Regions from separate parts of the Homo sapiens genome. Here region 2 is linked to region 1. Evidence: fine-mapped expression QTL. A gene starts in region 1. The other region holds a variant in brackets. All regions are shown on one strand. Distances are between the middles of the regions. Region 1 holds the start of NCBP3 (nuclear cap binding subunit 3). Region 2 overlaps NCBP3 (nuclear cap binding subunit 3).

Region 1 (2,912 bases):
AAGAGCGAACTCCGTCTCAAAACAAAACAAAACAAAAACCATGTTGAACTGAATGACTAAAGGGATGATAACACCTGCTTCACAACTGCAGTAATATTTATTTATTTTGGTTTTGTTTTTGAGATGGGGAGAGGGGAAAGGGGGGACCTCAAAGGGGTCTTGCTATATTGCTGAGGCTGGTCTGGAACTTAGACTCCTGAATAGCTGGCACTAAAGGCGTGCACGGCCAGTATATTTAAGTGACACAATATAGTGAATGGTAAATGCTACTATATTAGCTGTTGTTAATCATAATTATAACGTTTGCCATCTCTAGCGATCATACTTTAACCTTTCTCCATAACTTCAGTCTAAATATGTTGACATGTGGTCAAAAGTAATTCATGTTAGGTGAGAAATTAAGAGGAGTCATCCAGGCCTGAAACCAGCTCTGAGAACTGGATATACAGCCACCAAGTCACAAGCAAAACACCTCTCACCATCCCCAGCGCGGTAAAGGAGGGACCAAGGATGTCTATTGGTCGTCTGCTAGTTTGCTTTCATTAAGAGTCAGATGCTGGGGCCACGGTGTAGGTGTCACTGGAGCTGCGGGGGGGGCAAGATGACCCCGAAGTCACGACAGAAACAGTGAGTTTCTGCTGCTGACAAGTGCAGCCCTCTCAAGACAAAGAGCGAGTGCCATGTTTCCCAGATACAAATTCCTCCGGGGCAAGACCCACAAGGAGACCTGGTTGCTGGCGCCACCCAACAGCTCCTTCTGGGCTGCCCCTGGTTCTGTTCCCGCCCAGGGCTCCCCCTTTATCTCATCCTTCCAGCCCCTCCTCACTCACCTCCTTGCACAGCGCGGCTCAGAGGGGGCAGCGGAGGGGGGTCCTCAACTCCCTCCCAGCTCTCCGCCACCACCCCCCAGCCCCCTCAACACCCATTTCCGGCGCCCCGGCGTCCTTTCTCCCGCTCCGCGTCCCTCCTCCAGCCCGGCGTTCCCGTTCCCAGGACGCTGGCTCCCTCCTCTCCCGCTCCCTTGACTTCCCCGGCTGGGGCTCCGGCCACCGCCCCTTCCGGCCCCCTCCGGCGCTAGACACTAGCCCCGCGACCTCTTCCTTACCCCCCGACCCCCGCCCGTACCGGGATCAGTTCCTTGAGCGAGCGCCGCACAGGCACGATTTCCAGCTCGCCCTCCTCCACCTCCATGGGCTCCGGCTCGCCACGGTCAACACCGGACTCCGCCTCAGGGGACGGGAGCCCCAGGGCCGGCCCCGCCGGGGCCTCCGCCTTCACCGACACCCGCAGGCCCCGTACGGCCGCCATCGCTGCCTGCCGGCCGCACCACTGAGAGCCCGCCCCTCACGGCCGCCGGCTAGAGCGCCGCTGCCACTGGCCACAGAGGAGCCGCCGCAGCTACCTAGAGCGTCGCCGGCTTCGGCCCAGAAGGCCGCCCTTAGCGCCGCCGCCCCCTGGTGGCGGGAGAAAACCGGGCCGGCTGCGCGGGCGGGACCTGGGGAGGAGAAGGCGGGACTGAGCGGGGACGGGGGCGGGGCCTGCGGGAACTACGGAGCTTGGAGGAGACCGGGGTAGTCAAGGGTTACAATGTAGCTACGCCTTGAGGCTAAAGCTGTACTAAAAGCCAACTTTCCTGAGTGATCACTATGGGCCAGACACTTCCAAGCGCTCGAACCCTTAGAACAACTCTATGAAGTAGATCCTATTTTGACCCCCATTTCATATATGAGGAAACTGAGGCATAGAAATTGACCCAAGGTGACGCCATTTAAGGGATAAAAGCTGGATCTAAGTCTTCCAGAGTTTACAATGAGCCTTGATATATCACCTCTGGACAATCTGTAGGTTTATAAAGTTACTTGCCTTGCCAGTCTTTGTCTCTTAAAAGTCTCCCCAAAATTGGCCCATGTTACATACACAAAAATTGAGACTCCAAGAGGGAGAGACCTGCCCAAAGGCCAGAACTTGGACGCCGATTTCCTGACTCCTGAGGGTGCCATCCACTGTAGACCTGTGAGCATAGTTTCCGGCGGATATTTCTAACGAGAGCCTGGTGGGGGAGAGGGGTTGTCTACGCGTCCCGAGGGTGTCACTGATCAGCTGCTGTTCTGAGTCCTGATTTTCTTTTTCTTTCTTTCTTTCTTTCTTTATTCCTTTCTTCCTTCCTTTCTTTCTTCTTTTCTTTCTTTCTCTTTTCCTTCCTTCCTCCCTCTCCTCTTTCTTTCTTTCTTTCTTTTTTTTTTTTTTTTTTGTAGAGACAGGGTTTCACCATGTTGACTAAGCTGGTCTCGAATTCCTAACCTCAAGCGATCCACCCGCCTCGGCCTCCCAAAGTCTTGGGATTACAGGCATGAGCCACCGCGCCCGGCCTGAGTCCTGATTTTGCATCTTCCTCCCTGGGTAACCTTGGACAGGTTTTTGGGTCTGTTTTCCCATCTGAGGAGGGCATAGGTGAGACCCTACAGTCTCTGAGGCCCTGAGGCCCTACCAGCTCTGACCATGGAGGAGCAAATAATGATAAACCAAGGAAGAGCATGGTCAGCATCAGACACACCTGGGTTTCGAGCTGGCTGGCCGGGCCCCATCCACCATGTGTGACCTTAGGCAAGCTGCTTAGCACTTTGGAGTCTCAGTTCCTTCATCAGTAAAATGGACCATTACCTACCTACAAAGGAGGTTGTGAGGGTTAAATGTGATAATTTATATGTAGATACAGGGTCCAACAGAAGGGGTGCAGTACATCACAGTTTTTCTTAAATTTGGGCTAAACCACAGGATAAACACAAGACAGAGCTCTTTAGAGGACTAGTTTTATTTGATGAATGGGACACAAAGTACTTTTAAAAATTGGGTTGAGGCCGGGCACGGTGGCTCATGCCTGTAATCCCAACACTTTGGGAGGCCAAGGCGGG
Region 2 (2,912 bases), 22 kb before region 1:
GCCATAAAGAAAGAAAGTGCTTAAAGAATCATGGAGTATGTCAAAACAGCTTGAAGGGGCTCTACTGGCCAAATCCAAGACAATTTGTAAATTAAAATACTGATATTAGGCTGGGCGCGATGGCTCACGCCTGTAATCCCAGTACTTTGGGAGGCTGAGGCGGGCGGATCACAAGGTCAAGAGATCGAGACCATCCTGGCCAACATGGTGAACCCCATCTCTACTAAAAATACAAAAATTAGCTGGGCATGGTGGCATGCACCTGTAGTCCCAGCTACTAGGGAAGCTGAGACAGGAGAATTGCTTGAACCCAGGAGGCAGAGGTTGCAGGGAGGCAGAGGTTGCAGGGAGGCAGCGGTTGCAGTGAGCCAAGATCGCGCCACTGCACTCCAGCCTGGTGACAGAGCAACACTCCGTCTCAAAACAAACAAAAAAATAAATAAAATTAAATACTGATATCCATGGATGATAACCCACTGAATAAAGAATCCATGATTCTAAACTGATGTAAATAAACAAACAGGTAAAAACAGAAGGCTCTTCCTTAGAGCACCTGTCTACTGGTAAAGAAATGACATAGTCAGAAAGGCATGAAGCTCTGATGAGCAAGAGGCTATTTACGTGATCTCAAAGTATCTGCCCACCAATTTTTTATTTTAATCATTTTTTTATTTTTTAAAATAGGGATGAGGTCTTGCTATGTTGCCTAGCCTGGTCTCGAACTCCTGGGCTCAAGTGATCCTTCTGCCTCAGCATCCCAAAGTGTTGCAATTACAGGCACGAGCCACTGTAACCAGCCAGCCCACCAATTTTTAAATTACAAATGGAAGAATAGCAACTTTACAGTGGAAAAACCTAGTGATGATTACCTTAACCAAGTGAATAAAGTGAACGTCCCTAGGACTGGGACGAGTAAGTATCCAGGGCCTCCTGACATGATGCTCTGGAAATGACATGACATCGCTTCTGTGGCACGCCTGTCTCAAATGCACAACCCAAATTCAATCAGGAGGAATCATCAGACAAACCCAAACTGAGGGACATTGTATAAAATAGTAAACCTATATTCTTGGAAAACATGGGAGGATAGAAGTAGTTTCAGCTTAAGGGGGACTAAGGAAACATTACATACTTACACACTCAGTCCTGGATGGATCCTAGACCTGGGGCTGGGCGGGGAATATATAAAGGACATTATTGGAACAACTGACAAAATTTGAAAATCGACTACGGATTAGGTAACAGTACTGTATTAATGTTAAATTTCTTGATTTTGTTAAGTGTGCTATGTATAAAACAATGTTCTTATTCTTTGGAATACATTTAGGGGTGATGGGTTTTTATCTTCAACTAACTCTCAAATGATTAAAAAAACCAATATGTGTATATGTGTATAATACATATACATACATACATACATACACACACACATACACACACACATACACATACACACACATATACATACACACACATACATATATACACATACACATACATACATATACATACATACACATGCATACATACACACATACACGCGATACATACATACATATACATATATACACATACATACACATACATATATACACATACACACACATTTTTAAATGCC[C/T]ACCAAAAGTCACCATGTGTAAACAATCTTATGAGAAGGGAATTAGAACCGAATGGTACACTGGCAATGTTCAGGAGGACGTTGCTGTAATAAATAAAGTTTCATTTGAAAGTTTTCATAATTCAGATGGTAACTGGCTGAAAATATATGAGGCAAACCAGTTTCAACAGAAAATAACTTTAGCCAGAAGTCACAGAAATATACAAATAGTTAATATTCACTTTTAAAGTCAGAAATTCCAACTCAGGTGGCAAGCAATTATTTCATAAGCGCAGAATATTATAGTTTGAAGGGAACTTTGAGATTACTTGATCTAACTTCTATTCAAAAAAGAAGGATGTCACTCCATAATAAATCATTTTGATTGAAAATATAAAACAATACCAAATATTACATTTACCTTTTGTAGCAAATCTCATGAATAACCTATTTCCTTTAGCAAGTTTGTTAGCTGGACGAAGATCGTTTCTTAACAAAGACTCCTCTTCTACCTGAGACAACGTATCCAACTTAAGAAAGAAGAGTATTTTTAATATAAAAATTAAAGTCCTTTTGATATTTCTTCAGTAGTAAAGCTACCATTAAGAAAAGCATTCTACCTTTAATACTTACAAGCATTATAGCACTAGTTCCGCTGTAGAATTTCTAACTCAGAGATTTCCCCTGCCCACCTTGTCTAAAAGAACAGTCTCCATCATTCTCTATCCCCTACTCTTTTCACAACACTCATTGCCACCTGACACAGTATGAGATATCTGTGCATCAGTGTATCCTCTGCACTCCCCACTAGAATGCAGGCTCCGAGAGGGCCAGGACTTTGTTTTGCTTGAAGCTATATCCCTAGCACTTAGAATATGGTATATAATAGGTACTCAGTAAATATTTTTTAAATGAATGCATGTTAATATTTTTAACAACAGTACATAATCCATTAGGAAGTATGCCATTACTTGCTGTTTCTTCATTTTACTAATTAGATAACACTTCAAAGTATTTCTCAATAAAACTATTTTCTTTTTTTGTAGAAGCATAAGCACTATTCTAAGATTTCAAGGTGAATCGCTATATCCACACTAACTTAAAGGACAAGAGCCTGGTGCACCCTCAGAAGGTCTAATGGTGAAAGCTAGAGAAAAAACGTAACTAAGTCTTTAAGGCTTAAGTTAAAAAGACAGTGAGCAATTTTTTACAATAACTTTACATCTATCTTTCCCCTATTACTAACCTCTACATCACTTGAGTTCTCATCTTCAACCTCTCCTTCTTCAGCTTCATCATCATCTGAACTGTCTTC

What was found.
Region 2: its variant is fine-mapped to the expression of NCBP3 in whole blood (TOPMed, PIP above 0.99). The same link has a PIP of 0.9 or more in blood mononuclear cells and lung.

Annotation. Positions count from the first base shown.
Region 1 is chr17:3,844,916-3,847,827 of GRCh38, forward strand. It overlaps NCBP3 (nuclear cap binding subunit 3), which reads right to left and starts at 1,331. Exons shown (of 13, transcript NM_001114118.3): 1 at 1,126-1,331. The coding sequence starts at 1,308. RefSeq lists silencers at 1,030-1,319, 1,500-1,619.
Region 2 is chr17:3,822,924-3,825,835 of GRCh38, forward strand. It overlaps NCBP3 (nuclear cap binding subunit 3), which reads right to left. Exons shown (of 13, transcript NM_001114118.3): 6 at 2,844-2,912; 7 at 2,019-2,127. Among named protein-coding and RNA genes, the nearest start is that of NCBP3, 22 kb to the right of the region's middle. The variant C/T (reference allele first, on the strand shown) is at 1,619.